Linked DNA regions of Homo sapiens: region 2 is linked to region 1. Evidence: fine-mapped expression QTL. A gene starts in region 1. The other region holds a variant in brackets. All regions are shown on one strand. Distances are from middle to middle. Region 1 holds the start of CLCN1 (chloride voltage-gated channel 1). Region 2 overlaps CLCN1 (chloride voltage-gated channel 1).

Region 1 (13,273 bases):
CCTTAGCCCCTTACACTGCAGCATTCCTTACCACCTCACAAGGCATACCCAGACCTGAAAACCCTTCTTATTTTGCTGCTGTGATCCTGTAAATATATGCAGGTGTGGGCCCATCTCAGTTTGCGTAGTCCTGGGATTTCTCACAGATGAAATGGAAGTTATTAGCAAACAGTGCTGGTTCTTGATTATTTAGACTATGAGATGTAGGCTGCCATAACAGATTGGGCTGGAATAGAAGGATGGGAGAGTGAAGATAGTAAAATTCCATTTCTTACCTGGTTGCATTTAAGGTCTTCTAGAGTGGGCATAGATTGTAAGAGAATTCTAGTGCAGCATAGAAGAGATCAAAGCAATGAATTTGTGTAAGTTGGGATATTTTGGGGGTGCATTGTATCTAAAGGATATGCCTGAGAGGTAAGTGCAGGTGCAGATGGGCCATGGAATTTGGCAAGAGATGGAATGTTCTGTAGGAACTTTGTACAGAAGTTTTGGTAGGAAACAAAACTTTTTTTTTTAAATACGGGATTTCACCATGTTGGCCAGGCTGGTCTCTAACTCCTGGCCTCAAGTGATCAGCCCGCTTCGGCCTCCCAAAGTGCTAGGATTATAGGTATGAGCCACCTATAACAAACCAGAAACAAAACTTTTTTGTTTGGTAGGAAACAGCTGTGGGAGCTGGAAATATTGTTGAGTCATACAGAGAAGGGTATGGCAGTCTAGGAAGAGCAGAAGGGGATTGAGGTGAGCTGAAGCACCTCGGCAGATAGAGCAGAATTTGGTACAGAACACTGGAGACAAAAGGGCATGAAAAATGGACTGAAACTGGTTGGTTGTACTGCAAGAAAAACAACCATGGGATAGCCTCAAGGGAAGGATACAAAATCTAGGACAGGCGAAGAAATTATGGAAATAGTGGAAGTAAGATAAATACCCATTTTCAGGATAGGAAGCATTTTCAGTGGTGTGATATGTTTGAGAATTACAGAGCAGTATCTCTGAACTGGATTCCATGTCCTCCCCGCCCCCCAACCCCCTTGCCCTTGAATAAGGGTATGAGGTTGAATTTCACAGCTCTGCTCCCTTCTGCTTACCTCTGCCAGAGGATTCTCTTCTAAAATTATTCCCCTCCCAGAGCTGGGGGCTGCCCTCTGCTGCCCTCCTCCATCCTGTTTCCTCTAATAGGGAAAAGGAAAACAGGAAGAAGGAAAAACTGTAATATCAGACCAAAGCTGATTTTTTTTTAATTTTTAAAATTTTATTCTATAAAATAGAGATGAGGTCTCACTATGTTGTTCACACTGGTTTCAAACATCTGGGTTCAAGTGATCCTCCTACCTCGGCCTCCCAGAGTACTGGGATCACAGACATGAGCCACCACACCCAACCAAAGCTGTGATATTAAGAATGGTGCCAGACTGGCCGGGCGCAGTGGCTCATGCCTGTAATCCCAGCACTTTGGGAAGCTGAGGCAGGTGGATCACCTGGGCTCAAGAGTTTGGGACCAGCCTGGGCAAAATGGCAAAACCCCGTCTCTAAAAAATAAAGAATGAGGCCAGGCACAGTAACACATACGTATAGTACCAGCTACTCAAGAGGCTAAGGAGAGAGGATTGCTTGAGCCCAGGAGTTGAAAACCAGCCTAGGCAACATAGTGAGACCCCCATCTTTAAAAAAAAAAAAAAAAAAACACACACACAACACAAGAGGAAAGACGTCTAATCTGAGAAGGAGGAAGACATTAATAATAGCTACAACTGTTTGAGTCCTTGGTATGTTGTAGGCATTGAGAGGAGCTTTCCATTTCATCTTCCCCATGCTTCTGTGAAGGAGTCATTTTCCCTTTTGTTTTTGAAACAATTTTGCTGTTGTTGCCCAGGCTGGAGTACAATGGCGTGATCTCAGCTCACTGCAACGTCTGCCTCCCAGGTTCAAGCGATTCTCCTGTCTCAGCCTCCCGAGTAGCTGTGATTACAGGCACACGCCACCACACCCAGCTAATTTTTGTATTTTTAGTAGAGATGGGATTTCACCATGTTGCCCAGGCTGGTCTTGAACTCCTGAGCTCAGGTGATTCACCCACCTCAGCCTCCCAAAGTGCTGGGATTATAGGCGTGAGTGAGCCACCGCGCCTGGCCACAAATGTAGCTTTAACGGTATGGACTCTAGAATTCAGTAGATCTGATTTTGAATGCCGGCTCTGCCTTTGAAGATATTGGAGACCTTGATCAAGGTAGCTAACACAGCCCCAATTTCCCTTATTTGAAAATGAGGAAAATTGTGTCTACCTTCCAATGTCCCTATGAGGATTAAATGTGATGATGCATGTAAATCACATGGTGTTAATGCATAAAAAATGCTTGATAAATGTTAACTCACAGAATGAGCTTCAGTTTAATATGAGTGAACAGTTCTTACTATGAATCAAACACTATAGCACATTTTTGTTTTGTTTTGAGATGGGGTCTCACTCTGTCGTGAGGCTGGAGTGCAGTGGTGTGATCTCGGCTCACTGCAATCTCCGTCTCCCGGGTTCAAGTGATTCTCCTACCTCAGCCTCCCGAGTAGCTGGGATTACAGGCGCACGCCACCACGCCCAGCTAATTTTTGTATTTTAAGCACAGACGGGATTTCACCATGTTGGCCAGGATGGTCTCAATCTCTTGACCTCGTTATCCACCCACCTTGGCCTCCCAAAGTGCTGAGATTACAGGTGTGAGCCACCGCACCCAGCCTATAGCATGTTTTTTTGCATGTGTTATTTTATCTTCTTAACCCTCTAGTTACTTCCTTTCTGAGGAAACTGAGGTCAGGATGTGAAACCAAAGCTGTCAGTTTGAGCGTATGCTAACAGCCTTGCTTCTGTGACTTATTCTGGCATGAAGGATTTTTTTCTTCCTTTTTTTGGGCTGTAAGATTCCTCCCATTGGGCTGTGGGAATGAAACTGAGACCCAAACCTTATTCCATCTTAAGTCCTAATTAGGTAGGAGTTTGGGGGAAAATGTATCATGTTTGAAAAGCCAGAAGGGGGAGAAGGAGACCTGTCGAATACTACAGGGAAAGCCTGACGTGCAGGGGATGGGAAAGGACTAAGGATGCTTAAAGAATAAGGAGGCTGGCTGGGCGTGGTGGCTCACGCCTGTAATCCCAGCACTTTGGGAGTCCGAGGCGGGCGGATCATGAGGTCAGGAGATCTAGACCATCCTGACTAACACGGTGAAACCCCATCTCTACTAAAACATACAAAAAATTAGCTGGGCGTGGTGGCGGGCGCCTGTAGTCCCAGCTACTCCGGAGGCTGAGGCAGGAGAATGGCGTGAACCCGGGAGGCGGAGCTTGCAGTGAGCCGAGATCGCGCCACTGCACTCCAGCCTGGGCGACAGAGCGAGACTCCGTCTCAAAAAAAAAAAATAAAAAAGAATAAGGAGGCAAGCCACAATAAAGAGGAGAGGAGACATGACCGCCAGTGGCATACAATACAAAGTGTCTTCAGAGGAAGTTGTAGCTTAGCTGAAATTTCAGAAAGTAGGTGGCCACGGGTTCCATGGCTGCCTGGATATGCAGAGGGAAAGTGATGACTGAAAACACCTTTAAAGAACATAAGGGTTTTACTGCCCACTATGCTGGGGAGGCCAGACTGGAAGACGTGAGAGTCTGAAAACAAGGGTGTAACCCAGAAAGAAAATTCTTTCACCTATACCCAACACAAAACTTCTCCTCCATGTATCTTGCATGGCAACTTTTTACGATTTTCCTTCAAATAGCAATTCTATAAGCCTATGGGCTTTTAAACTTTTTGTATAATGGACCCTAGGATGATCTATTTAAAACCCCAAAAGAGGCCGGGTGCAGTGGCTTACACCTGTAATCCCAACACTTTGGGAGGCCAAAGCGGGCAGATTACCTGAGGTCAGGAGTTCAAGACCAGCCTGGCCAACATGGTGAGAAACCCATCTCTACAAAAATACAAAAATTAGCCGGGCATGACCGTAAGTGCCTGTAATCCCAGCTACTCGGGAGGCTGAGGTGACAGAATCGCTCAAACCCGGGAGACGGAGGTTGCAGTGAGCAGAGATCGCGCCATTGCACTCCAGCCTGGGTGACAGTGAGACACCATCTCAAAAAATAAATAAATAAAATAAATAAAACCCGAAAGAATATATATCATTTATGCATGCTTATGAATTTGCTTCCACATTCAGGAGCCTTACAGGAATCCCTAGAAGCCCATCTTTGTGCCTCCAAATAAGAACCTAAGCTACTAAGCCCAGCGGGATGATGGAGTGAGGAGTGGGCATGGTTTACATTTTCTTTTCTTGTTCTCTTGCAGGGATTTAAACCCATGGGATTTAAACTATTCCTAATTTCAAACACAGGATATTTACTCTCAAACCCTTGCCCACCAGCACTGGCAGTCTGTACATGTCTTTGACCCTCCTAATTTCAGAATCTGGTTTTAAGAATCGCAGTTGGTGCTTTCCTTCTAGACCACACGCTTCCACTCAGCTTGGCTGGATGTGAGCACTTCCCTACTCCACTGGTCTCTGCCTTCAAATCTCAGAGTCCATGACTAGGCTGCTCTGTTTTAGGGCCCTGTCTTTCTCAGAAATAGTAAGAAAGTCATAATTGTATCTCATATCTTGCTGCTTATATTTATCAAGTTTCTACAGCAACTGATCACTTTCAGGAAAGCTATACTCCTCAAATGGGAGAATCTTGTTTCTGAAGTCCTCCAAGGAATGCAGTGTTACCTTGGCACTCTATTTTTTTGTGTGTGCAACAATGTCTTTTATTATGTATGCGGTTTTAAAATTATTTCTTGAATCTCTCCATACACAGGCAAAAAATAAGTGTGCTACTTAACATACTGGAACTTGCCTAACTTAATCATTGCCCAGAGAAGGGAAAATTATCACCAAAATGTGCTTAACCAGGAGGCCAATGCATCTGCCAACCTCCAAGAACATGGAGATGAACTTGACAGACAGACTGTCCACCATCTGAACCTTTATTCACCACCATTTGATAACCCTTATTCAGGCCCAAATCAGCAGCACATTTCTTGCCAACAATCATTAAGTGTCCAAGAAGACTTTCGTCATTATCTTCTGCTGCAGAAATCTGGGATATATGTTTTTTCGATATCAACAGAAAACGTGTTGGTGCTTGAGGGGAAGTGTCATGGAAAGCAAGGCACTGGTCATCCTCAAAAATGATTTTGGCTGGGATTTCCTTGCAGATGATCTTCCCGAAGACAGTGTTGCCACCAGGCCGAGCGACCTGAGCCTTGGCGATCTCACCTGCCATCTCTGCCTGTCTCCCACACAGCAGGCAGGGTAGAGGCTCAGAAGGAGGGAGGAACCCACAGATTCTATTTTCTTTGTTAAGAAAGTAATCCTTTCTGCTCATACCAATCCCATAGATGTCTATCCTTATTTTCTGCCTGCAGAAAAGGTGGGTATCATCACAGAATGTTTAGTCTCTCAATTCATCACACATTTGTAATTTTTTGGAGAGATTATAGGCCTTGAGGTTTGTAGGATTGTTGTTAGAGCAGGTGTTTTGTTTTTTTTTTTTTTTAGCTACATTGGTGTATAATTGACAACTAGAAATTATACATATTTAATTACTACTTGAGACCGTGATTACAGCAGTTACTACTGTTACCACTTGAAACCATCATTATGACCGAACAAAGGGACGAATGTAGAAATGAAAACTTAAGACAAAAGAAACTGTTTTAAGGAAAGGCAACATGAAGAAGAAGAGAGCTCCCTGCTTCTAGTGAGCAAAGGCAGCTCCCCTGCCGAGCTTCTCAGCCCTTCATATTTACTGGGTAACAAGAACAAGAAGGAGGTAACGATTGGTCAGCTGCTGAATTGATCACAGGTTCATATTGTTACTGACAAGCTTCAATTGTACCTAATCATAAGAAACATTTGTGCGGCCTCCAACAATGTACAACTTGATGTGTTGATATATGTGTACATTGTGAATGATCATCACAATCAAGCCGGTTAACATATCCATCACCTCACATAGTTGCTTTGGGGGTGCAGGGAGGTGAGAACATTCAAGATCTACCCTCTTAGCAAATTTCAAGTATGTGGTATTACTACCTATAGTTACCATGCACATTAGATCTCCAGGACTTTCTCATCTTGTATAAGTGAACCTTGTATCCTTTGACCAAATTTCCCCATTCTCCCACCCCCTACTCCAGCCCAGCCCCTGGCAACTACCCTCTACTTTCTGCTTCTATGAGTTTGACTATTTTAGATTCCACATACAAGTGCAATCATGCAGTATTTTTCTTTCTGTGTCTGCAATGTTTGACTTAGCGTAATGTCCTCCAAGTTCATCCATGTTGTCACAAGTGGCAGGATTTTCTTCTTTGTCAGGGTTGAATAGTATTCCATTATATATATTTATATACACATGACATTATTCATCTGTTAGTGGACACTTAGGTTGTTTCCATTTCTAGGCTATTGTGAATAATGCTGTAATGAACATGGGAGTGCAGATACCTCTTTGAGATACTGATTTCCTTTCCCTTGGATGTATGGGAGTTGCTGAGTCATATGGCAGTTCTGTTTTTACCTTTTGAGGAACTTTTATACTGTTTTTCATAATGACTATACCAGTTTACATTCCCACCAACAGTGCACAAGGGTTCCCTTTTCTCTGCATTCTCACTAACATTTATCTCATCTTTTTATTTAATTTTTTTTTGAGACATAATCTCACTCTGTAGACCAGGATGGATTGCAGTGGTGCCTTCCCAGCTCACTGCAGCCTCCACCTCCCGGGCTTCAGTGATCCTCCTGTCTCAGCCTCCCAAGTAGCTGGGACTACAGGCGTGCACCACCACACATGGCTGATTTTTATAATTTTTATAGAGACAGGGTCTCCCCATGTTGCCAGGTTGGTCTCGAACTGCTGGGCTTAAGCATTCCACCCGCCTTGGTCACCCACATTGCTGGGATTATAAGCATGAACCATAATATCCATAGCCATAATAATGGCTATCTCTTGCTTTTTTGATAATAGCCATCCTAACAGGTATGAGGCGATATTGCATTATGATTTTGGTTTCCTGATGATTAATGATGTTGAGGCCCTAGAAAAAGTACTTTTAATGATATTGGCTTCCCTCCTGCTTTGGGTGGTTCCATTTAGCCTAGGTCAAAATCACATTGTAGACCAGATGTTTGGTGTCCCTACCCTGCAGTCCCTGAACTTGGACTGTCCTGGGACAGACCCCACTTGGTAATGCATCCTAAACTTTACTTTGGCTCAGTTCATATCTTTTCTCCTACAGTGAAGAGTTCATAGGGAAGACATGTCATAGGAAAATTGGTTTTATAACGTGATGCCAGGAAGAAAAGTTTGTCCTTGGCCAAAAAAGTATTTATTGACCTGAAAAGGGAAGAATAGCAGAGAGCACTTCCCCATCATCTTTCATGTTTGTCGGGCTTGTCATGAGAAGCCCTCACCCCTTTCCCACCTCTCCCTTCCCTGTGCCTCTTTCTACTTTCGATTCTCCCCTGTTATCTCCCTTGTTATCTATCTGATGGAGCCAGTGTGGGCACTCCACAGTCCAAATGGAAGCTCAGTCCCTCCGGGTTGGCAGTGTGGCTGACACCTAACAGTCTGGGAAGTGGGAGAAATTCTAGAACCCAAGGCTATTACCGACCCTCGACTTCCCACTTCCCATAAGTGTTCCACACCCAGTGAGTGATAAGGATGGGATCAGGGGATGCCCCCAAGCTGTTATTAGCAGCCTCTGGCAGACAGAAGGGCAAAGAGCTAGAGAAGAACGCTGGACATGGGATGGGCTGGCAGAGCTGGCCAGACAGAACCCTGGGTGGACACAGAGTTGGGAACAAGCTGGCCAGGAGATGTGGCAGAGAGGCACCAGTTACTTTCCCAGGTGAGTTAATGTGCCAGTGTTTCCAGAACTTCGAGTCGCTTCATCTTTATCCAGCACCCACCCCTCACCTTCCGCATCCTGAAGAAGAGAGATGGGCAACTGGAGGGCTTCCATGCAGATCCGGCTCTACACATAGGTTTGAGAGCATACTCAGCAGTTTCTCATCCTGGTCCAGGCGATATTTATAGAGGGACCAGTGACATGGAGCTGGAAGCCTACTACTGGTGACTAAGAAGGGGGACAATGCCACTGGCTCAGCAGAGGGAATTCCCTGTGGGGCTGTCCCTCAGGTTCTCATCCCAACCCCCACCCCCACACTGCACTCACACCTGCTTCGACCCCAAGCAGATCAGATGTGGCAGTGGGGGGTCATGTGACGGAGAGGGGTCTATAAATAGCTGGAGGTGGGCATGCTGCCCCAGACGCCTTGGGGACAGCAAGAGCAGAGGCTTAAGGAGCTACACTGGGGGAAGGACAGGGGCAAGCAGGCCAAGGCCTGGCCGGGGCTCGGGGGGAGGGAATATGGAGCAATCCCGGTCACAGCAGCGTGGGGGTGAACAAAGCTGGTGGGGTAGTGACCCCCAGTACCAGTATATGCCCTTTGAACACTGCACCAGCTACGGACTGCCCTCTGAGAATGGGGGCCTCCAGCACAGGCTCCGGAAGGATGCAGGCCCCCGCCACAACGTCCACCCCACACAGGTAAAGTGCTCTAAGGGGAGAGGGGAGCCATGGATGAGGGGAGACAGTGGTGCCAGAGACTGGTGAAAATGAGGAATTGGGTGAAAAGAGGGAGCAGTGTTACATTTTTTTAACTTAAAAAACAAGTACGTGGTGATGTGTTCAAAATATGAAAATCTTTGAAAGTCTGGGCTCACTTAAGTATGCACTTAGAGAGATATGCATGCACTTTCATACAACCTTTACCAACAGAGTACCCAAATCATATGGGGAAACAGCAGAGCCTCACATGCATGAATAGCTCGTGCTTACATAACCTACGTGGAGTGGATTGCGTAGGAGCCCACACTGCAGTGTGCTGGGAGCTGTCTCCCACACCCTCACCCACAGGTAGACACTGCCAGATTTCTGCCTCTGGGACCCTCTGCAGAATACACACAAACATGAATCTTTCTGCAGAAGGCAGAAGAAAGGAATTGGGCAAGTGTAGAAAACAGACTGAATTGCTTATCAGTGATCAAAGATCTACCAACGTCAAAATGAGCAGAGATGTACAAGCTTTTAGGTCGCAAGATGATCAAGTAAGAACCTATTAAGTGTTAGGCACCTGGAAAAGGGCAGAGATGTGATCCCAGCAACAGAAGCATGCAGGCTAATTAGGAGTGTCTATGGATGAGCAGCCTCCCGCTGTGGGATTGGTGGGATATGAACACCTAGGAAAGGGGGAATGGGGATGGGCACAACTAAAGGAAAGGTTGTGAAATTGTCATGGAAAAAGATAGGTCATGGTTAATAAGTAAGTGTGCCTCTCCCTCCAAAGAATGCAGAGAATAACAGAGGATAGAATTTGTCTAGAGGGCAGTTGGCCAGAACTTTTTTTTTTTTTTTTTTTTTTGAGATGGAGTCTCGCTCTGTCTCCCAGGCTGGAGTGCAGTGGTGCTATCTTGGCTCACTGCGACCTCCGCCTCCCGGGTTCAAGCAATTCTCTTTCCTCAGCCTCCTGAGTAGCTGGGATTACAAGCACCTGCCACCATACCTGGCAAATTTTTGTACTTTCAGTAGAGACGGGGTTTTGCCATGTTGGCCAGGCTGTCTCGAACTCCTGACCTCAGGTAATTCACCCGCCTTGGCCTCCCAAAGTGCTGGAATTACAGGTGTTAACCACTGTGCCCAGTCTGGTCAGAACTTAAAAGGCTTTTTTTTCTTTCTTTTTTTTTTTTTTAACAGGGAGCCTTCAGTTCCTTTAGGTTTAAGGCTGGGAAGCTGAGGCATGAGCTATGCAGGGGATCTCAGCACTGGGGGTCAAAAGGATCTGCTCTCAGTCCCTGACCAACCCCCAGGAGTATTTGCAAAGGCAGCGCTAGGGACCCAGTAGGGAAGAGGGACATACAGGTCAGTGTAGGCTGGAATCGAGCATTGGGAAGGTTTCTTGGAGACAGCGGGGTCTGACTAGGCCTTTGAACACTGTGTGGGATCAGCAGGAGGGAAGACCCCTCCCCCTGGCCCTGTGTTCTCACTCGTGTACATGGTTGTATCTGGGTGGGATGGCAACTTGAGTAACAGTGCCATTATGGCACTTCCTGATGACAGTTCTCGTGTTGGGAAGCTATGGTTAGTTTGGGGAGTAGAATTGGCCTGTTTTCTACAGGTCTCAAAAGTAAACAAGAGTTTGGATTAGTTTTTCTTTGTTTAATTTTTATTATGGAAGACTTACACAAAAATGGAATGGTATAGTGAAGCCCCAAGTACCCACCAGTTGTCAATATTTTGTCACTATTGTTCCATCTATTCTTCCCTTCCCCACCCTCACCACTCTACACACCATGGAATACTTTTTTTTTGTTTTTTGTTTTTTGTTTTTTGTTTTTGAGATGGAGTTTCGCTCTTGTTGCCCAGGCTGGAATGCAATGGCGCGATCTCAGCTCACCGCAATCTCCGCCTCCCTGGTTCAAGCAATTCTCCTGCCTCCGCCTCCCAGGTAGCTGAGATTACAGGCATGCGCCACCATGCCTGGCTAATTTTTGTATTTTTAGTAGAGACGAGGTTTCTCCATGTTGGTCAGGCTGGTCTTGATCTCCTGACCTCAGGTAACCTGCCCATCTCAGGCTCCTAAAGTGCTGGGGTTACAGGGGTGAGCCACTGAGCCTTGCTTCCACCTTGGAATACTTTTTAACAAATCCCAGACATTGTATCACTTGTAGACTTGAGTTTTGACTTCTCCCTTGCCCTCCCCTCACCCTGCCCTGCATGGGACCAGCCAGAACAGATCTGGCCCTTTAAGTGTTTTCCCAGCCCAGGTATGATGATATGAAGCAACCCCCTTCCTTGTCTCCACTGGCCTGGGGCCTTGAGGAGCTGAGACAGCCTCAGCTGTCTGACTTCCACTGGGAAGTATGTTCTCTCTCTGGGTCCCACGCAGGGTTTGGAAGGAAACACTGCCTCCCTCGGTCACTGACCCAGAAGACAAACAGCCATGAGCAGGGCAATTCATGTGCGTGCTTGTTCAGGACTGCGGTGTAAAATGCTGCTCATATTGTGAAATCAGATCTCTTCTACTCAGGCTCTCCCAGAATCCAGCAACATGGCCTGGCCTGACCCTGGCCCCAGAGGACAGTTAGTGTAGTGGGAGTGGGGCAGGCTAAAAGTGGTTGGAGCTCTTGTATACCCCACACAGACACACGTGCTCTGCCTCAGGATGGAAGCGGAGGGCCACCAGACCTGGGGGAGCTGCTCTGTCCTCTTCACATGTGGGGCAGGTAGGGGTCTAATTATCTAGCTGTGGGAAGAAGTAGATGGACCTGCCTTTTCGGGCTAGTTCTTGTGTGTGCATACAAGCACTGGGAGATGAAGTGGATGGTCTTGAAGCTTGATAGAGGACCTGAGGTGCCTCAGGTAAGGCTAGACACACCAAGGCAAAGTGCAACCAAGACTGCCCTGCTAGTTAGCCCAGTCTGTCCTCACCCTGTTCATGTTAGGAGAAAAGTCAATGCAAGTGGTCTGGGGAAATTGTGGGACATACAGAAAGCGCAGTGACACAAAACACCTGATTGATATGGCCACCTGGGTTCAGCACAGTTCTGTACCTCTGCTTCAAAGCAAAAACTGGCCTCCTTGATAAAGGCTACCCTGGATCAAGGTGAGTACAGGTTGGAGAATGGGTGTAGAGAAGGTAGGATGAATGAACAAGGGAAAGGGTGGGAAGTGTGGGAATGGAGGGTGGAGAGTAGAGGGCAGGGATGACCACAAAGTCACCCTGCATGCAGTCAACACCCAGAATTCAAAAAGCTGTTGTTCTTTTCTTCTGTGAGTCTGTCTGCTGGCCTCTGTCTATTATTTTTTTAGTCTTCCACAAGGCAGACACTGATCATTCTCTCTCTGTCCAGATTTATGGCCATCACAAAGAACAATTCTCAGACAGGGAGCAGGACATAGGGATGCCCAAGAAGACAGGCTCCAGTTCTACCGTGGACAGCAAGGATGAGGATCACTATTCTAAATGTCAAGGTGATGGGGACTGAGGAATAAAGAAATCTGGAGTAGAAACAGGTACAGGGATTAGGAGAATAACTTGGGCATCCCATTGCACGTACGTACTCCCTGCCCTGCTACAAAAACTCTCCTCTAATTGTTTTTAAGAGACAGGGTCTCACTCTGTCATTCAGACTGAAGTGCAGTGGAGTGATCATAGCTCACTGCAGCCTAGAACTCCTGGGCTCAAGTGATCCTCCTGCCTCAGCCTCTCCAGTAGCTGAGACTATAGGCACATGCCACCATGCCCAGCTAATTTTAAAACTTTTTTTGTAAGGATGCTGAGGCTGGTCTTGAACTCCTGGCATCAAGCAATCCTCCCGCCTTAGCCTCCCAAATTCCTGGGATTAGAGGCGTGAGCCACCATGCTTGGCCCCTCTAAGTATTAAGGAAAAGGCACCTCTCTTCACCTCCTTCGCACTTTGCCTATTCCCTGTTATTCCTCCCACAACTCCAAGAAATGAGTTTTAGGAAGGAATTCAAGTATTCATGGGGAACTGGGCTTTGGTGCCTTTTGCAGGGGCCGGAGCAGCAATCAGCAGAGGGGTAATGAGAAACTCAGTGCATAAGACATACGGACCCTGGGGGCCCAAGGCTTCCCCTCCCATCTTGGGTATAGCACCCAAAGTAAAGTAGTGACTCGTTAGCTGCTTTTCTCTCTCTCTCTCTCTCTCTCTCTCTCTCTCTGTCTCTACATATATATATTTTTGTTTGTTTGTTTGTTTGTTGTTTGTTTGTTTGTTTTTTCCCTCATCTCTTCCTAGATTGTATCCACCGCCTGGGACAGGTGGTGAGAAGAAAATTAGGGGAAGACGGGATCTTTCTGGTGCTTCTGGGACTGCTGATGGCTCTGGTCAGCTGGAGCATGGACTACGTCAGTGCCAAAAGCCTTCAGGGTAGGTTTAACCTGGACCTTTGCCCACAGCCGTTTCTGGAGTTTCTACCTAGGGTAAGCAGGGTGTGTTATCGGAAGCGAATGTTAAGCAGGGTGTGTTATGGGAAGCGAATATTGCGCAGAGAGGGATCAGGTGGGACTCCAGGCCCAGAAAAGACCAGACCCAGGCCTGCTCCACTTCTCACGCCCCTCCACTCACTGCCACCCAAGCAGTGGATGCCCCTCTAATAGGGTG
Region 2 (10,190 bases), 31 kb after region 1:
ATGTTTGATAAGGGTTCTGTCTTTCCTTCCCAAGAATCATGGAACCAACAATGCAGGTGATTGGCTCAGGTTGCAGGTGATTGACTCAACCTGAGACGTGTTGATATTGATGGGTAGTTAAGAGCACAGGACTAAGAGCTAAGAAACATGGCTCTAGACTTCTCCTGCCACTTGTTACCAGTCACCATGAAGCAAGATAGCTGCTTCTGAGCCCTAGTTTCTTTATTCTAAAATGACTTCTGAGATAGAGCTATGCCTAACACCAATAGAATCCTGGGATTATTATGCTTCCTCCCTTCCTCAGCAAAATCCCATAGCATCTAAGGCCATGCCTTCCCTACATAGAGAAGTGCTGACCAGCTTTCTAGCTCACTTGGTACGCTGCTCCCCTGACATAGTTTCTTTCTAAAAGCCTCTTTCATCAATGAGGGTCATAGACTCTTGTTCTCCATCTTCATGACTCCCTGGTACACATGCCTCCCTTGTGAACATTTCCTTGTATGCACGTCCTGTGATTGTTTATGTTCTGAAGTATGTTATATGCAATATCCAATAGTGTCATTCCTCCCTATATTTCCCTTCTGTGATGCTTTCTTGGTTGCTCTCTCCCTTTCTTTCTCCCTTCCTTCCTTCTTTTCTCTCTTCTCCTTCTCCTTCTCTTCTCTTCTTTTATTTCCAGAGTCTTGCTCTGTTGCCCAGGAGTGCAGTGGCGCAATCTGGGTTCACTGCAACCTCTGCCTCCTGGGCTCAAGTGATTCTCCTGCCTCAGCCTCCCAAGTAGCTGGGATTACAGGCACATGCCATCATGTCTGGCTAATTTTTGTAATTTTAGTAGAGATGGGGTTTCACCATATTGGCCAGGCTGGTCTCAAACTCCTGGCCTCAAGTCATCCACCTGTCTCGGCCTCCCAGAGTGCTAGGATTACAGGCATAAGCCACCATGCCCGGCTGACTTTTTCTTGTTACATTTTCATATGTGCCTTCCTCTACATTTTCCCCATAGGATACCTCTTCCATATTTAAATAAGAAATATAATTAAAGCACAAAGGACTATTTTGGTTAGTGGAGAAACAACCAAAAATTAACAAGATAGATTCTATCTTCAGGGAGCTTATAGAATTATAAAGTTTCAGATCTACAAGCGCCTTAGAAATCATCTAAATGACCCCTTTCGCTTTATAATTGAGAGCATGGGATTCCAGAGGAATTAAGCTCTACTCATTCCATTGAGAAATAGTAAGAGCAGGATCTGACACAGGTCTCATTGCTGCATGTCCACAGTATGATTCTCGGGTTTTCATTCTATTTACTCACTAATTGTTGGCATTAATACCTAAAGCCCAAGGTAAAAAAAAAAAATGTTATAACTGAGTTGTAAAATGCTCAGTGAAGAGGCCTGATACAGTGGCTCATGCCTGTGATCTCAGCACTTTGGGAGGCCGAGGCAGGCAGATCACTTGAGGCCAGGAATTCGAGACCAGCCTGGCCAACATGACAAAACCCTGTTTCTACTAAAAATACAAAAATTAGACATGTGTGTTGGTGCATGCCTGTAGTCCTGGCTACTCGGAAGACTGAGGCAGGAGAATCACTTGAACCTGGGAGGTGGAGGTTCCCATGAACCGAGATTGTACCACTGCACTCCAGCCTAGGTGACAGAGTGAGACTCTGCCTCAAATAATAATAATTAATAATAATAATAATAATAATAATTTTAAAAAATAATAAAATAAAATGCTCAGTGAATAATCATCCAAACTTTTAAAAGCAAGGAATGGATAGGACATCACTATCTTCATATTATAAATGAAAATTTTGGCACACACAAAGATTTTGTAACTTGGTGAAGTTTATAGAATGAGATCAAAATGATGATTTTTCTAAGAGTTCAGTATTCTATTCCCTACTCTTGACAAGTCATTATGAGTATTGGCACTGACCAGGGTCATGTCTCTCATTCCGTGTTATTCCCATCCCATCCCCATATGTCCTTCATGCTAAGAACGGTAGCCCTAACCTACAGGCGTATTCCTGTGTCATTCTAGGAGCAGCAGCGCTGACTGGTGCCGTTTCCCACACAGTCTCCACAGCTGTGATTTGCTTCGAATTAACGGGTCAGATTGCTCACATCCTGCCCATGATGGTGGCTGTTATCTTGGCCAACATGGTGGCCCAGAGCCTGCAGCCCTCTCTCTATGACAGCATCATCCAGGTCAAGAAGCTACCCTACTTGCCTGACCTTGGCTGGAACCAGCTCAGGTCAGGGGCACTAGACGGAATTAGTTCAGATCTGATGGGGAGAGTGGGAGGTTCTGAGGCTGAGACTGAGCTTAGAGTTAAAGTTTGGAAACACTGTTTTAAATTATTATTATATTCTCATGCACCTAGTAGATATTGTGAGTGACTGAAAGTATGGCAAATCTTATGGGAGGAATGGAAGGGATAGGTATACGGTGGGGCTAACCCACCATGCTTTCTCCCTCCATAGCAAATATACCATCTTTGTTGAGGACATCATGGTACGTGATGTGAAGTTTGTTTCAGCTTCTTACACATATGGGGAGTTGCGAACCCTGCTCCAGACCACCACAGTCAAGACTTTACCACTGGTTGACTCAAAAGGTCAGTGGGGAGGAAGAAGTCGACTCCAGAGCTAGTGACCTGAATAAGGGTCACATAGAGGTAGAGGAGGCCCCATGGTGGGGGCTTTGTCTTTAGGGGCCATCCAATGTGCTATGTACAAGGAAGGAAAAATTAAGCCATAACACAAGCACACAAAGACAGTTAAAAATGCAATTAAAAGGTCCTGGCATGGTGGCTCATGCCTGTAATCCCAGCACTTTGGGAGGCCGAGGTGGGCAGATCACCTGAGGTCAGGAGTTCGAGACCAGCCTGACCAACATGGAGAAACCCTGTCTCTACTAAAAATACAAAATTAGCTAGGTGTGGTGGTGCATGCCTGTAATTAGAACCCGGGAGACGGAGGTTGCGATGAGCCGAGAACGTGTCATTGCACTGCAGCCTGGGCAACAAGAATGAAACTCTGTTAAAAAAAAAAAAATTTCCCACTAAATACAGTCAATTCTCATAATTCATGGTAGTTATGTTCAATTAAGTATGAAGTTCAAATACTATACTGAATAATTGCTCCTAGGAAAAATACAGGGCTGTGTTCCTGTGAGTCTCTGGTCACATTTCCATCAACCAATCAATATATGACCTTGTTGTATGTGTGTTTCTGGTAAAGACACCTTATTTCACAGATATTGTGGATTAATTAATATTGAACTTGTGCCAACAGCACTATAACCCTTGCCTGAATTAAGCTTACTTAACACACATATTTTCTCAATAAGGCTCATCACAGCCTTCTTGCACTAGGAACAGTAAACAGCACTTTGACATTATATTTGGTGGTCATTTTTAGCAGCAAAATCACCAACACAAAGCACAAAAATGCAAAAAGGATGGCACTAAATAGACTACAAAATGAACACCTGTTTACAATGTGAAAGCTGAAACAAGAAGGTACAGCACTGCTTTGTTCAACTTCAGCTGGGAACAGGGACATGGGACAACTAAAAATCTTTGTTGCTCTTTGCATGTTTGTGAATTACAGTGAAAGCACCTCTAGTATTGGTTTTGTGTTACAAATATATTTTAGTGACTAGCTGAATTCACAAATAGGGAATCCATGAATAATGACAATTAATGTAAATCCCATAGCTTCTTACGTTGTTCCATTTTGATGCTTACATAAGTCATGCTTGTTCTTTAATGCCCAACTTATGGAAGAGTTGGAACTGTTTTCTTTCTTCCTTCCTTTCTTTCTCTTTCTTTCTTTCCTTCTTTTTCTTTCTTTCTCTTTCTCTCTCTCTCCCTCCCTCTTTCCCTCTCTCTCTCTTTCTCTCTCCCTCCCTCTTTCCCTCTCTCTTTCTCTCTCTCTCTTTTCTTTTCTTTTCTCTTCTTTCTTTTCGACAGAGCCTCACTCTGTTGCCCAGGCAGGAGTGCAATGGCGCCATCTTGGCTCACTGCAACCTCTGTCTCCTGGGTTCTAAGTGATTCTCCTGCCTTAGGCTCCTGAGTAGCTGGGATTACAGGAATGCACCACCATGCCCAGCTAATTTTGTATTTTTAGTAGAGACGGGGTTTCACCATGTTGGCCAGGCTGGTCTCGAACTCCTGACCTCAGGCGATCCACCAGCCTTGGCCTCCCAAAGTGCTGGGATTACAGGCATGAGCCACTGTGCCCGGCTGGAACTGTTTCACATGGAGGAGTGAATGGTTGTTAGTAAACGATAATTTCACATTTCTCTGCCTTCACCATCATTTGACACTTCATCCTGCTTTGTATGATTTCTTATTGTGGTTTATATATCTATATCTTGTCTTCCTAACTAGGTGGGCATTCCTTGAGAATAGAGGCTATGAATTCTATATACCCAGAGTGCCTTGTTATAGGTATCTACTAGATATTAAATGAATAATTTCCTAGTGTTTGAATTAGTGTAATAAAGAAAAATCATGTAGGGCCATTTGGAGTCATTAAGATTGTTAGTTCTGATTTCCAATAATCAGAATATCCAAATTTCTCAAATTAAATTAATTCAAATATTTTCCCAAATCTCATATACATTCCACGTTCTACAGCAGAGGCTCTTTATTAGAGGAGGGGTACAGCCAACAAATGAGGGGCAAGGTTTTCATAATAATGACTGAGACCTAACAGTAAAATTCATCTCCAGAGCACTGCTGCAATGTCTTGGCCTTAAAACTTAATAAAAATGTTAACTATAGTAGCAAAATTTCTATAATCATATAAAAGACCTTCTCAGGAAAAGTAGGCATTTTGATTTATCCTAGCAGGGTTTTTTTTTTTTTTTTTTAATGAAATCTCGCTCTTGTCGCCCAGGTTGGAGTGCAGTGGTGCGATCTCAGCTCACTGCAACCTCTGCCTCCCGGGTTCAAGCGATTCTCCTGCCTCAGCCTCCCAAGTAGCTGGGATTACAGGCGCCTGCCACCACGCCCAGCTAATTTTTTTATTTTTGGTAGAGACGGGGTTTCACCATGTTGGCCAAGGCTGGTCTCGAACTCCTGACCTCAGGCGACCCGCCTGCCTCGGCCTTCCAAAGTAGTGGGATTACAGGCGTGAGCCACCGCCTGGCCCAGGTTTTTTAAATGATGAAATGTCAGATACAAAAGAAAGAGTTCCCTTGTTTCCCTTTTTCCAGGGAGAGATATAATGTTTGTATTGCTTATAGACTTCTTTCAAAGCGTGTTCACGTCTCAGCTTATTTGAATGGCTTCTCATGTTTCTTTTTATTTGGACAGCATTGATTAGCCTCCTTAATTATCAGCTCACCTATCTGAAGTCTATATAAGGCCTCATCAAAATAAGTACAAATTAGCCCAATTAGTGCTCTACCAATTGGCCCCGTACCTGCTAAATGGATGAAATAAAAGGGATTGAGTGAGGTTAATCTTGGAGGATTCTTAAAATGAGTTTCCAGGAAGCTGAGAAAGATGTGGGGACGCCGGGCAGGGTGGCGCCTCTCCTGTTCCTTCTCAGGAGTGCGGAGCGCGGTGGTGCGAGAGGGCTTGGAGGGGGCGCTCAGGCAGGGCGTGGGTTTCCCTCAGATTCAATGATCCTGCTGGGCTCGGTGGAGCGGTCGGAACTGCAGGCCCTCCTGCAGCGCCACCTGTGTCCTGAGCGCAGGCTGCGCGCAGCCCAAGAGATGGCGCGGAAGTTGTCGGAGCTGCCTTACGACGGGAAGGCGCGGCTGGCTGGGGAGGGGCTCCCCGGCGCGCCTCCAGGCCGGCCCGAGTCCTTCGCCTTTGTGGATGAGGATGAGGACGAAGACCTCTCTGGCAAGAGCGAGGTGACCGCGCCGGGAAGGGCTAGGGAGTGGGATAGATCAGGAGCAAAGGGAAAAGCGTCGTCTGGGCTGGGCTGGGCTGGGCTGGGACAGGCGTAGTTTCCCTGAAAGTAGTGGGAAGAGGGAGGGG[A/G]GAGTCTGGTAACTGAGAAAGCCAGAAATTCTGGATCAGGTACCATAGAGACCAGTGCCTCTGGGTCCAGGGACTAAAGAAGATAAGGTTGCAGATGATGGTATCCTCGACAATTCAAAGGGATATAGGAATTTCTGAACTGGGGGGAAGAATAGAGTTCGCTTTCCCAGAACATCCACCAACTGGTAAAGGCAGTGAAGGCCCAGGCAGTCTCTGCTCCCAGGCTGAGACTTCTTACTCTTCCTTACAGCTTCCTCCTTCCCTTGCTCTCCACCCCTCTACTACTGCCCCTCTGTCCCCAGAAGAGCCCAATGGGCCTCTGCCTGGCCACAAACAGCAGCCGGAAGCACCAGAGCCTGCAGGTGACGCTCTTCCCTCATGCACCCCAACTCACCCCTTGTGGGTTCTCTCTGGTCACTAGGACCTGACCTTGACCTGCATGCAATTCCTATGCGGGGTGGGGTGGGGGGTGAGGCTGGGGGATTGAGGGAGGACAGGGTTCTTATTCATCAATTCTCCTTGTTACTGTCCCAGGGAGTGGGAGCAGAGGGTGATTTAGGAGGGTAGAAGAGAGGGTGAGGTACCTGGGAAGTGCAGCTCTTTGGAGGCAAATGTTAGGCACTGGGTGGGGCCCCTGGCCGTTTCCTGTTGCTTTGTGTCCATTTCCATCCACTCACCTGTCCTCTCAGGTCAAAGACCCTCCATCTTCCAGTCCCTGCTTCACTGCTTGCTGGGCAGAGCTCGCCCCACAAAGAAGAAAACAACCCAGGTGAGAGGAGATGTGTTTGGGGATACAGGGGAAAGGGAGCCTGCCCTTGAAGAGTGAGAAACCCACGGTTCTTAAATCAGGAAGGCAGAGACCCCACCAAGGAGGAGGAGTTTAATCATATGGAAGGGATGATGAATGAAAAGGAGGCATCGGTGGTCCTGGCCAGGGAGGGATGGCTATTGTTTCATTGGGAGCCATAGCTACCATGGGAAGAAAAGGGAAAGAACTTGGACCTATGTCTTTCTTCTCTAGGATTCCACAGATTTAGTGGATAACATGTCACCTGAAGAGGTGAGTAAGGGAAATGGAAACCTGGGGTGGATTGTTCTATCAAATGAAGATATTGCTAATTTGTTTCTACCTTCTTTATTGTGTTGTCATGAAATAGAATGTGGTCTGGATGGGAAGTGTTTTGAGAGGATGGAAATAAGGATGATTATGGAGAGAGTAATGAGTGTGTGATGGGACATGGAGGTGTTCTCAGAAGGACACGTCATTTCAGAAGAGAAAAACTTTGAGCCTCCATGAGTAAATGGGGCCATGGTGCTAAGATGAGCCCCAGATCTTTTAGAGATTATGGGCTTTCTGGATCAGGCAAAGCTTTAATGGAGGTAAAATGGCACCAGGAGGCTGGCACTAAAACAGCAACATAGAAGAAGAACATCAAAACTAAAATGGGAGGCCGGGCATGGTGGCTCATGCCTGTAATTCCAGCACTTTGGGAGGCCAAGGCAGGCAGATCACCTGAGGTCAGGAGTTTGAGACCAGCCTGGCCAACGTGGTGAAACTCCATTTCTACTAAAAATACAAAAATAAGCCGGGCATGGTGGCACGCACCTGTAATCCCAGATATTTGGGAGGCTGAGGCACGAAAATCACTTGAACCCGGGAGGTGGGGGTTGCAGTGAGCAGAGACTGCACCACTGCACTCCAGCCTGGGTGACAGATCCAGACTTTGCCTCAAAAAAAAAAAAAAAAAAAAAAACTAAAATGGAGAAATCTGCTCCTGGTGGAGATTACTGTGCTGGATTGATCAGGGCCCTGAGACAGTGAACAACTGGAAAATGCTAGGCATTGCTACTGGGAAGAACTGAAAAAGGAAGAAAATAATGACCACGGTGCCTCCTGGGGACAAACAAATGCCTATTTTCCTAAACGAGGTGGTTATCAAATCTTCAAGAGAGAAAAATCAAGCATTCTGAATGTGCTTGGTTGTCAGGAGGGAACAGAATGTGGACTAGTGATTGGAAGCAGGCGGTATCAGAACATACCGAGGGGTTGTGGAGGAACATCAACAGAAAAATCCATTGGCAACTATTCCATATGGTAAAAGAATGCAGAGTTTGCTGCAAACGCCGAAAACGTAAAGCTTGTAAAGTATGAAGCTGACAAAAAAAACACGGCAGATATTATTTTTAAATGAACATCTTATTGGATATCCAGAATAAATATGTGCTGACAATGAAAAGCATTACAGGATTGGAGGAGGATGTTGTGAGTGACAAGACAGAAGAGAAACCTTCCCCACCCCCTCAAAACACACACACTTCTGATAAATGACTTGTGAAAAAGTCAAATCGATGATCACAGAGGGAAAGGAAGAACTATTCCTTCTGCCCACAAGCAGGAATCAGAAAGGCCATAATTGCAGTTAAGGAGTACTTTGTTAGGTTGCTAAAACCAATAACAATAAGTTTTGCTTTTTTTCTTTTTTTTAATTTAATGCACCAAAGAGAGAAAACCAGCTAGTTGATCAGTGTGGCTATTGAATGACCACTGGAAATAAAGTGAAGCCAGGGATTAAAAATAAGATAGACTATCATTTCTAGCTTATGTCTTTCCCAGGGAAGACTTTAAGGAGCTACCAACTCCCATGTGACCCACTGAGACATTTTAGAGGGATAAGATCTAACAGGAGTTGAAATTCAGGATGTTTTGAACACAATTTTCAGACCAGATGATACCCTTGACAATATCAAGATGTTGATATTGACCAAAAAAACAGTATGGGGGCAGTATGGGAATATTGAAAGATTCAATTATATGTTGCCAGAAGTCCCTACTAGGATTTGTTTAATTCTGCATACTCTGGAGTACACACAGAGCTCTGTTTCTAACCGGTACCGAGCTTATTCAAGTAGTGGAACACACCAGCCTCAACAGCAACGTCCTGCATCCCTTGCGCAAAAGCTGGAGATGTACCTGGAATACAAACAGCAGTCAAGGTTAGAAGCCCAGCTCCACCAATTACTGACTGTGTAATCCTGGGCAAATGACTTCAACATGCTGTGCCTCTGTTTCCTCATCTATAAAGTGAAGATAATGATAGAGTTATTAGAGAAGATTAAATGAGCTAAGACGGGTAAGTCAATTAGAATAATGCTTGGCAAAGAGGATGTACTTGATAATCATTCACTGAAAATGTTGCCGCGTTATTGTTAAGGAAAGGCAAAAACGGAACATAAGGCCACAGATGATCATAGAAAAGACCAAGAGGACGGGATGGACCAAACCATGGTTGGCAAGGTCTAGCCCCCGTCCTATACCTAAATCTTCTCTACAACACACCTGCTAAGTGGTCATCCATCCTATGCTATGTAACCTCTGTAATCCATTAGTCCGGAAGATGAGAGTATAGAGGAGTCATGATTGTAATCCAGAAATATCAGGACAGGACAGGTGGAGTGAGCATCACTACGGGCTACACACCAGATCCTAAACCTATATAATGCCCTTTGGTGATATTCTCTGAAGTTTGAGAGGTGTAGATTTGGACAAATAGGAAAATAGAGTTCTAGATCATTCAGAGGATACTGACTGAAAAGAGATTTTAGAAATTTTAGAAAAATGTAAGAGAGCCAGAGATGTAATGGATTATTTGGACTCTTGGGAATTTTGGTGTGCGTATCTAAAGTCAAGAGGATGGTTGGCCTTTGTGCCTTAATGCTTCTGTCATAGACAAAAACAAACAAACAAAAACTGGCTTTGCTCAAGTCAGCTAAGTGCCATGAGGTCCAGTATAGCTCTTCAATTTCAACAAGTACCCACTACAGTTCCCTGCATGAGAGGTGATGTGCTAGTTTCTTCACAATATACAGCAGCCGATACCACATAACACTCAAGACAAATGCAGAGGTAAGACAGATGCCAATACAGCAGGAAGTATGGCCAATGTCATTTCTGAAAAGGTGAGACCAGCTAATACTATGGGAATAAAAAAGGGGAGAAGCACATCTGATTGGGAGAGTCAGGAAATACGTACACTGCAGGGAGAGGGTAGGGCAGGTAAAGGAACTCCAGATGGTCAGAATAGCAAAGACAAAGGGGAAGGCATGTTTGAAGAGCAGAAAGCAGTCTGGTTTGATTGGAGCCCCACGTCTTATAGTAGTAGTGGAAAATAGATGGGAAAGATAG

Evidence for each region. PIP is the estimated chance that this variant, and not a neighbour inherited with it, causes the effect.
Region 2: its variant is fine-mapped to the expression of CLCN1 in whole blood (INTERVAL, PIP 0.98).

What each region holds. Positions count from the first base shown.
Region 1 is chr7:143,307,757-143,321,029 of GRCh38, forward strand. It overlaps CLCN1 (chloride voltage-gated channel 1), which reads left to right and starts at 8,355. Exons shown (of 23, transcript NM_000083.3): 1 at 8,355-8,636; 2 at 11,999-12,119; 3 at 12,908-13,039. The coding sequence starts at 8,457. It also overlaps the pseudogene HINT1P1.
Region 2 is chr7:143,339,883-143,350,072 of GRCh38, forward strand. It overlaps CLCN1 (chloride voltage-gated channel 1), which reads left to right. Exons shown (of 23, transcript NM_000083.3): 15 at 2,047-2,260; 16 at 2,490-2,623; 17 at 5,639-5,880; 18 at 6,258-6,369; 19 at 6,697-6,776; 20 at 7,029-7,067. Among named protein-coding and RNA genes, the nearest start is that of FAM131B-AS1, 17 kb to the right of the region's middle. RefSeq lists silencers at 5,534-5,828, 5,635-5,714. The variant A/G (reference allele first, on the strand shown) is at 6,008.